3 separate regions of the Homo sapiens genome follow, and all the other regions are reported to be linked to region 1. The links are microRNA targets in miRTarBase. Many come from high-throughput screens and were not tested one by one. Region 1 holds a microRNA gene; each other region holds the end of a gene's coding sequence.

Evidence for each region. The annotated mature microRNA hsa-miR-2114-5p reads UAGUCCCUUCCUUGAAGCGGUC and lies in region 1 at 2,248-2,269, opposite strand. An mRNA with a match to its seed (bases 2 to 7 or 8) in the 3' UTR can be bound and repressed. Matches are read on the target gene's strand: a 7mer-m8 pairs with bases 2 to 8, a 7mer-A1 pairs with bases 2 to 7 and ends in A, and an 8mer does both.
Region 2: miRTarBase lists ZNF354B as a target of hsa-miR-2114-5p. Seed matches in the 3' UTR shown: 7mer-A1 at 2,098-2,104.
Region 3: miRTarBase lists KLF17 as a target of hsa-miR-2114-5p. The part of its 3' UTR that is shown has no 7-base or 8-base seed match.

Annotation. Positions count from the first base shown.
Region 1 is chrX:150,226,933-150,230,284 of GRCh38, reverse strand. It overlaps MIR2114 (microRNA 2114), which reads right to left and starts at 2,281; the gene lies at 2,202-2,281.
Region 2 is chr5:178,883,607-178,886,958 of GRCh38, reverse strand. ZNF354B (zinc finger protein 354B) reads right to left here. Exons shown (of 5, transcript NM_058230.3): 5 at 1,939-3,352. The coding sequence ends at 2,668. It also overlaps the pseudogene RNU1-39P. Among named protein-coding and RNA genes, the nearest start is that of ZFP2, 11 kb to the left of the region's middle.
Region 3 is chr1:44,130,284-44,133,283 of GRCh38, forward strand. KLF17 (KLF transcription factor 17) reads left to right here. Exons shown (of 4, transcript NM_173484.4): 3 at 229-473; 4 at 2,955-3,000. The coding sequence ends at 473. Among named protein-coding and RNA genes, the nearest start is that of KLF18, 9.8 kb to the right of the region's middle.

The DNA of each region.
Region 1 (3,352 bases):
TGTGTATATGTATTGGATTTGGTTTGCTAATATCTTAAGAGTTTGTGGAACTATGTTCATGAGAGGAATTGGTCTATAATGTTCATTTCTTGCAATATCCTTGTCAGGTTTTGGAATCAAGGTCATCTGGGACTCATAAAAAGGTTATGGGACACCCCAGCAGAGAAGATGGCTGTGGAAGGCCCTGGGGAATGATGGTGTGCTCAGAAGATCAGGAATGAGAAGAGCAGCACCTGTAGTGGAAGCTGCCAGCCTGGCTGTCTTGGGAAATAATGGCCAAGTTCTCCCTGTTCCCTGTAGATCCTGTCTCCACAGTGGCATGATGAGGGGTGGGAACATCAGGTTCAGAAAAGGTCTTTCTGCTCTCAGCTTCTCACAAGCTTAACTGAAGCCCCCCGCCGGGGTGATAGAAGATATGACTTCCCCTGAGTTTGGTAGAGGCAAGCATTTCCCTTTGAAAGCTTGTTGGTCATTGGTCATCTCCGTGGTCTCTTCTAAACCCCAAGAGTCATCCAGGGCCATGCACCCAGGGGCTTTTTCCACCTCTCCATTCAGAGCCTTTGATGCCCCTTACACACCTCTTATCAGCTGTTGAACAAACTGTGACCTGTCTCCAAGAATGCTGGCCAGCTGAGGCTGACAATGGGGCTTGGCCAACCAAAGTGATATGGATAGCAACTGGCAGAGGGCCAGGATGGCATAAATGTCAAAAGGTGCTTGCACTTGCTGCTGTGACTGCTAGCTGTGGTCTTAAGGTATCTTGCAGAGGAGGGGGTAAAGGATGGTCCCAGAGGCACCAAAAGGGGCAACAAGCACAGACATTTTTAACTGCCACTCAGAGAACAACAACTCTGTGCCAAGCCCTGTGCTGAGGGCTCTACACTCACAATCTTCTTCATATACACATGGGTCTCACTGAAACCATAACACAGCAGAGTGGGAAGGGATATTTTAACCAACTAAGGTGTTCACTTGCCAGTGCCTGGGATCCAAAGTCAGCATAGCCACTCTATACGCTCAATCATTGGGAGAGGGTAGGAGGAGCCAGTTGGCTTAGTGACACATTTAACTTGGAGTACATTCATCAAGACATGCCTGGAAAAGGCCACAGAGGAAAGGCTCCAGAGAGGAAGATAGCACTGGGTGACTGAACTGAGGGGACCACAGCTTCATAAGAAGGGCAACAAGAACCAGGCTCAGCACTTATTCTGGTGTTCACTCAACAGCATACAATGTCATCACATTCACTCTCTTACTGGAACCTCCTAGGGCGCCCAGGAAGTCAGCAGGGCAGGAGTCTTCTCCCCTCTGAACAAATGAGGAAAGTAAGGTTCAGAGAGGTGAGGTGACTTTACTTGCCAAAGACCTATTACTGGTATGGTAGGCTAAATAATGGCCCACAAAGATGTCCACATCCTAACCCCTGGAACCTGTGAATATGACTTTATATGGCAAAAGGGACTTTGTGTATGTAATTAAGTTAAGGATCTTGAAGTGAGAAGGTTGTCCTAGATTATCTGGGAAGGCTGTGAATGCAATCACAAGTGTCCTTATAAGAGGAAGGCAGAAGGAGATTTGGCACAGACAGAAGAAAAAGGGATGTGATGACAAGAGCTCCATGTGTATATCAAGGATTGTGAGTGTAAAGCCTTCAGCACAGGGCTTGGCGCAGAGTCATTCTCTGAGTAGCAGTTAAAGCAATCTGTGCTTGTCACCCCTTTGGTGCCTCTGGGACCTCCTCCGCAAGATACCTTAAGAAAGAGATTGAAACGATGTGCTTTGAAGATGGAGGAGGGGGTGATGAGCCAAGGAATACAGGTGGCCAACCTGAAAAAGGCAAAGTAATGGATTCTCCCCTCAGAGCCTCCAAAAGCATCCAGCCCTGTTGACACCTTGATTTTAGGCCAGTGAAACTGATTTGTTTTGGACCTCTGACCTCCAAAAGTATAATAGTAAATTTGCATTGTTTTAAGCCACTATGTTGGTGGTAATTTGTTATAACAGCAATGAGAAACTGATCCATCTGGTGAGTGGCAGAACTGGGACAGAAGCCAGTCATCTCATCACCCAGGCAAAGGCAGACGCCATCATCTGCTTCTTGGCAAAGTTTCCCAGGGCCTGGATAGATGTGGGAGTGGAGGATGGGAGGACTTCAATAGGAGGCAATGATGGTTCGGAAGCAGGAAGCTAGCTGCTGGAAGCCACCAGCTTGAAGTCCCTTGCTTGAGGCTCGTCATGTGATTATCCGACCGCTTCAAGGAAGGGACTAGGAGCATGGAGGCAGAGGCCTGTCTTTGGCCCCAGAAGCTGGGACGTTTGATCCATTGCTGACTGGGTGAGGGTCCTGCTGATTGAGATGGAGAGTCCTTAGAGGCAAGACTGGACCGATGACTTCTTGAGGTGCTTTTCAGCTCTCAGGTTCTGTCAGTCCCTCTTCATGGAATCCTAGGTGCCAAAAGCAGACCCAGGAAGCCTGTGGCCCTGATAACCCAAGGCAACCTCTGTCTCTCTAAATGTTCCTGTGGAACCGAGTAAGCATAATCCCAGAGGGCAGTTTGGGACAGCTCACACCCTTCCAGTGGCGGTGAAAATTGGTCATTCCCCTTGGAGAGAGGAGGCGCTCTTGGCAATTTTCCAGAGCTCTACCCTCCTTCCTTTGTGCCCAAACAGCTGTGGGCAGATCAGGCTGGGGGTAGAAAGGAATGAATTCTATTTTCTTCCCTCCCTGAGGTACTCCATGTGGTCACAGAAGGCTGCACAGGAAATATAACGGTTGACAGACGTGCGGTGTTTTGTGATGTGAAAATTAAAATCACCAGGAAATGTTCACGTTCTCTCTCTCCTTCTCTCCCCCCCTCCCCTATCTTCCTTCCTCTGAGCCTTTCTCTCTCTCTGTTCTCACTCTTCCTCTGTTGCCTTTTTCCCCCCAGTTCATTTTAAGTCCCTCAAACTTCCTACCTCCAAGAACAACTCTCTAGTTGAGGCTTGGACTTTACAACTTTCACAAATCACTTTGAATCCTTAAGGTGCCTACAGACCTCTCAGTTTGAGCAATTATGGGAGGGAGAACAAAGAATCAGGGTGGGCGAGCTTCCAGCCACCACTGCCATAAAGTTAAGTGACAACTGTTCACTCCCAAGCCTCTGAGTCTGGACAGGTTTGAAAAATTTGTTTTAATCTCAAAAATCTATTCCCAATGAGCAATTAGAAGCCATTTCCTTGAGCTCTTACTATATCCCAAACTTCGGTTTAGTTAAATTTTGTGAGGTTCAAATTTTGCACCTTGAGACTCTACTTTTCTCTAAATTTCACAATTTAGGGATAAGGGTCTGTTTGTATTCAGCACTGATTG
Region 2 (3,352 bases), not on the chromosome of region 1:
AAATATCCAAATTGAGACTCTTAAAAAATGAAGTCTTTCTCCTTAGAGAAAATGAGTCAGCAGGCAGAAAATTCCTTCACCTCCAAATCACTTATCTGTATTCCCTTCTTTATGTGGGCTTTTCCATCCCTGAAATTAAGGTTAATTCCTCCACCTATGCTATGACTCCAATTTATTTCACAAAAGTTGTTCCTCCCAGCAATGTCTTCTTTAATCTACCCTCAACATGTGCATACATTATTAAACCAGAAATGGTCCCTAAGTCATTCTTCCCTTCAATTATATTTGAAATAGTCTTCAACAGCCTACTTGTTCACCCTCCTTCAGTGAAATTTCTCTTGCCAAAGTCTACAATTATCTCATTTACCAATTTACTCTCCTTATTACTTCCTTTATAGCACCTGACACTACTGCCCATCTGAGATTCATTTATCCCTTGGGTTCAGTGACATCACTCTTCTGCCTTTTCTCCTACATACAGGGCCATTCCTTTTCATCTTTGCACAATTCCTTCATCTACTTCTTGTATATTGATGTTTTCCTGGGTTGTATCCATGATCCCTTTCTCATTCTAATCTGTACATTCTCATGGCCAATTTACATGTGCCAAGCTTTTCACTAACTATATCTTAATTACTCCTAACTCAAGCCATCCAGCTCAAATTGACCTTTTGGGTTTGGATGACTCATTTAACATGTATAAAATCAAACTGTTTACCCCTATATTGCCTACAAGGCATATCACACCACCATCCATCCAGGTAAAGTTAATCTACCCTGTGTGTCAATCACCTTCCCCAATTATTTGATTGCAAAAACTATGCCTTATCTATTCTTACTACATTAGCATGTGCAACATATTCTTCACTGACTATCCTTGCTTGAGCTTAGAGCCTCCTTCACCCATCACTGGAGGCTGAATTCTAGGCTTCAGTCTGTTCAGCAGTCTTCAATCTCCTAAATTCATCCTCTACACATTCGTGCAATACAGTTTCCATCACTTAAAGTCGTTACTTAGTACCCTAAATTTCAGAATAAAATTCAAATTCCTTAGTTTGGCAAGTAAGACCTTTTGTTACCTAGCCACTGCCTTCTTCTCAAGCTTTTCTTTTTCATTACTTCCTATAGATTCTCTACAAATGTAATATGCTGTCACCCACCCACCCTACACCTTTGCATATGTGGCTCCCTCTATTCAGGATCTCACTTCATGAAGAATACCTACTATTCTTCCAAAACTGGGCTCAGACATCATGGTCTCTGGGACACTATTGCTGGTCTCTCCTGGTCTGCTTGGTTAGTCTTCCATATTTCTGCATCCCATGCAAATCTCTCCATTTGTATTCTGCAACACAGCATCACAGCTTAACTATTTATCTGTGAAAACCCCAACACATTATGATTTGCTTACTCCCTTTAACCTCCTCTTCTCCACCCACTCAATTCATGACTTCTTTAAGGTCTGTTTCTTTCTTCTATACAATTTCTAGCGCTCAGGATAATATCTGGCCCAAACTCAGGCTTAAACAAACATTTCTAAGTAAATCAGTTTTGAAATTTACAATTATTTTTAAAGAATTTCCTTTGCAGTCTGAAACTTTTAAAACCCCACGAGGAAAAAAAACTTTTATTTCATAAACTGATTCCTTCTGAAGACTGTCACAAGTGATAGGCTCTTTAAACAATTAGGATTTCATCTGCAGCCAACTAAAAAAATATTAATAGCTTTAACCTTGAAGTGATTGCCTAAACAAACAAAATGCTTCAACCTAAACTATCTAACATTACTGTTCAGAGCATAGCAAGTATGGTTTCATAATAAATATGACTTCAAGACAATAAAGAAAAAATTCTGAAAACAAAACTAGGAAATGTATAGAAAATATGGGAGGCTATTAGATGTTGTTTGGACATGACTACAACAAAGAAGAGAACAGATTTTTTCTTTTTTAATAAAAGCCATGCACGAAGTTTGACAGTAAGTCAGGAAAAGGTAAATTCCAGGCACTAAGAGGTAGTTCAGTTAGTTTTTATCTCTTATTGGTCCTTTGCTCTAATACTGCATATATATATATATTTCAGGAGAAAGTGCGAATGTAGTCCCCCACTACCATAAATTATGCAGTTGAGTTTTCCACATTTTGGGAAATTGAAGGGGTCAGCACATCTGGAGTGCAATGGATAAGCCTTGCCCTGGGAAAACCACCTTCGTGATCATGGTAATCTTCCCTGCCAGGTAAGTATATATTGCATATATTTTTAAGATCAATTGTTTTGTTTGCTATTAAAATGTTTGCTGTAATAAATATGCTTATATTTATATAATAGTAGTTTATACAAATGTTTTTCTAATGAAAAATTCAGCACCTCAGCACCCAGACTTTTCTTTTTTGCATGTCATAGATAGCATATATTATATAAAGAGATTTTATAAACATACCTTTTATCTTACAAATGGCCAATTTCAATGTCTGCAACAGTGAACTGTCTCGGGATATTTTAAAAAGTGAGTGACAAGTATAAAAGCTTTTCCCATAAGTTATTACATAGCTAAAGTTTATTCTTAAAACTTAGTATCTGATGAGAACTAAGAGTTTTCTCATATTCATTATATTTAATAAATCACTCTCAAGCATGTATTCTCTGATGAGTTTTGGTTTAAGGCTTTCACACATGCAAATCGGCTTTTAAGGAGTCCTCTTCAATGTGAATTTTATAATGATTAGTAAGGGATGACCTCTGGCTAAAGAGTTTCCCACATGCATTACATTCATAGGGTTTCTCTCCAGTATGAATTCTTTGATGTGCAATAAGTGATGAGCTTTGTCTAAAAGTTTTTCCACATGTATTACATTTAAAGGGTTTTTCTCCTGTATGAATCCTCTGATGTTGTATAAGAGCTGCACTTTGGCCAAAAGACATCCCACATTCTAAACATCGATATGGTTTCTCTCCAGTATGAATTCTCTGGTGATTACTAAGCGATGAGTTACACCTGAATGTTTTGTCACATTCGTTACACTTATAGGGTCTTTCTCCAGTATGCATTCTCTGATGTTGAATGAGAGCGGAACTCTGTCTGAAGGCTTTTCCACATACTTTACATTTACATGGTTTTTCTCCAGTATGAATTCGCTCATGAATAATAAGTGTTGAGTGGGAGCTTAAGGCTTTACCACATTCATTACAATTATACAATTTCTCTCCAGTATGAATTATTCGGTGTCTATTAAGTCGTGAAATAGAAGTAAAGCCTTTCCCACATTCATTGCATCTATAGGGCTTTTCTCCGGTGTGAATTCTTTCATGTTGAATAAGAGAGGCACTCTGGCTGAAGGCTCTCCCACATTCA
Region 3 (3,000 bases), not on the chromosome of region 1:
GAGCCTTTCATCTTCCAAGCTTGGAACTAAGCTAGACTGGCCCCCCGACTTGCCATACAGGAGGACTGTGCCAAGATGACTGGGGCGGGCACTCCTGATTGTGTTGCCCCTCCCTGGTTCCCTGGACCTTCCCTTTTGAATCCTCAACCTGGACTGCTCTGCCTCACAGAGTTAGACCCCTTCCTTCCTACTGTATTCTAAATTCCATCTCTCCCTTGTCATTCCCAGGTGAGAGGCCATATTCTTGCAACTGGGAAAGTTGTTCATGGTCTTTCTTCCGTTCTGATGAGCTTAGACGACATATGCGGGTACACACCAGATATCGACCATATAAATGTGATCAGTGCAGCCGGGAGTTCATGAGGTCTGACCATCTCAAGCAACACCAGAAGACTCATCGGCCGGGACCCTCAGACCCACAGGCCAACAACAACAATGGAGAGCAGGACAGTCCTCCTGCTGCTGGTCCTTAGGTCAGTCTCCTCTCCTCATTCTGGGTTTTCTTTTTCCTTTTTTCCTTTTTATTTTTTTGAGACGGAGTCTCACTCTGTCTCCCAGGCTGGAGTGCAGTGGCGCAATTCGGTTCACTGCACCTTCCACCTCCCAGGTTCAAGTGATTTTCCTGCCTCAGCCTCCCGAGTAGCTAGGACTACAGGCACGTGCCACCAGGCCCGGGTAATTTTTTGTATTTTTAGTAGAGACGGGGTTTCACTGTGTTAGCCAGGATGGTCTCGATCTCCTGACCTCATGATCCGCCCACGCTGGCCTCCCAAAGTGCTGGGATTACAGGCGTGAGCCACCGCAGCCGGCCTCATTCTGGCTTTTCTACACAGATCCTACCTGCCTCTGACCAGTTCTTCTCTTTGGTGGGTGTAGGATTAGATGAAGACAGGAAGATTATGGGTCAGTGTTGAAGCCTACACGGAGCTCTGGAGCCAGAGACTCCTCAAACCCTGTCTCGGATGCCCTTAACCTCTCTGGGGCCACCTGCTTCTGCTGGAGTTTAGTCAGATGCGAATGTGGAGCACAGTAGAGACTGGGAGCTTCATTAAAATGCTCTTTATTTCTTGTCGCTCCCCAGCTTAAAACCCTTTAGTGACTCCTTTGCTTGCTACATAAAATCCAGTTTCCAGAGCCAGACTATTTTCAAATCCTGAATTTGCCACTTAATATCCATGTGACCTTGAGAAAGTTCTTGGATCACTATGCTTTGTTTCTTCCAGAAAATGAAAAAACTAGTTTTGTACTGTATTAGACGTGGCACATATACTGCATCATTCTCCCTGGCACTCACTGGCCATGTACCCAGAGTTTCTGTTTCTTCCCACCACTTTACAGACTTGGATGGAATGCCCTGGCATAGGGCATGGGATCTGGCATCCCAAGTTGCTGCTAGCAAACTTAGAAGTGTGGGGAAATTTATTTATTTGAGACAGAGTCTTGCTCTGCCACCATGGCTGGAGTACAGTGGTGTGATCTCAGCTCACTGCAACCTCTGCCTCCCGGGTTCAAACGATTCTCCTGCTTCAGCCTCCTGAATAGCTGGGATTACAGGCAAGCACCACCACACCCAGCTAATTTTTGTATTTTTTGTAGAGACGGGGTTTCACCATGTTGGCCAGACTAATCTCAAACTCCTGGCTTCAAGTAGTCTGCCCACCTCAGCTTCCCAAAATGCTGGGATTACAAGCATAAGCCATGGTGTCTGGCTGGGAGTTAATATTTATGGGATAAAATTTGAGGCCGGGCGCAGTGGCTCACGCCTGTAATCCCAATACTTTGGGAGGCTGAGGCGGGTGGATCACAAGGTCAGGAGTCTTGAGACTAGCCTGGCTAATATGGTGAAACCCTGTCTCTACAAAAAATACAAAAATTAGCTAGGCATGGTGGCGTGCGCCTGTAGTCCCAGTTATTCGAGAGGCTGAGGCAGGAGAATGGCTTGAACCCGGGAGGTGGAGGTTGCGGTGAGCCAAGATTGTGCCATTGCACTCCAGCCTGGGTGACAGCAAGACTCCATCTCAAAAAAAAAATTTTTTTTTTGACTAGTGGAAAATGGGAGATAGGTGAGACTCAGGCAAATCAATTCCCCCTTTTCCCCTGCCTTTCATAAATTGCTGCATGGCACCAACTCTCCAAAACAGTACCATCAATGGGGAGGCCTCCCAAGTAGCCGGTGGACAGAACTACTGTGACCTCTGCAAGGCTTGTCATGAAGCAGTGCCCACCCCAGCCTATTAAATACATCACCTTACGTTACTTCCCATTCTTTCCCGCCTTTCTTCCATTTTCTCACTTCCAATGCCTTGGGTTTGCACCTCTCCAAATAAAACACCAGTACTTAGTTCTTGTTTTCAGGCTCTGTATTCTAGGTGACTGAGGACTAGGAGGGAGAGGAGGACCTAAGCCTGGGGCAGATAAAGATGAATCTCACTGTAACTTCTTCTCCTCCCACCTTCCTTAGGTCCCTGGACTACAAAGCACCAGATATTAAGTGGCCTATCTTTCCTTGCTCTCCCTTGGGGTTAAGGGGATAATGACTATCTTGGCAAACCAGCCAGGTAGTTTAGAACCTCATATTTAGACTCGGCAGGCTGTTTTACTCCAGGAAATTGATAGAGAGAAAGGAACTTGGCCAAGCTATCAAGTGCAGATCTAGAATCCCAACCAGGATCTGTCTGCCCCAGAGGTGGTCTCTTCCGTAAGAAGATGGTGCCTTCTATGGGTGTTTCCTGAACGAGGCTGGTGCCAAGCACAGAGAGATGAATCAGAGCTGGTTTCTGTGCTCAAGGGACCGTCTTGATCTGGGGGCTCAGAGGTCCACCTCGGTACAGTAGCCATGGGGAAGAGGAGCCCCTAATGGAAGGGTCAGAAAGGCTCTCTGGAGGAGGTAATCCCTGGGCCCAGTAAGAGTGTAACACCTAGTAATCCCTCAAATTTTGAAATAAACTGAACAGGTGAATGAAGAAGGAAGAGGATTCCAGGCTGAGAGCACTGGACGTG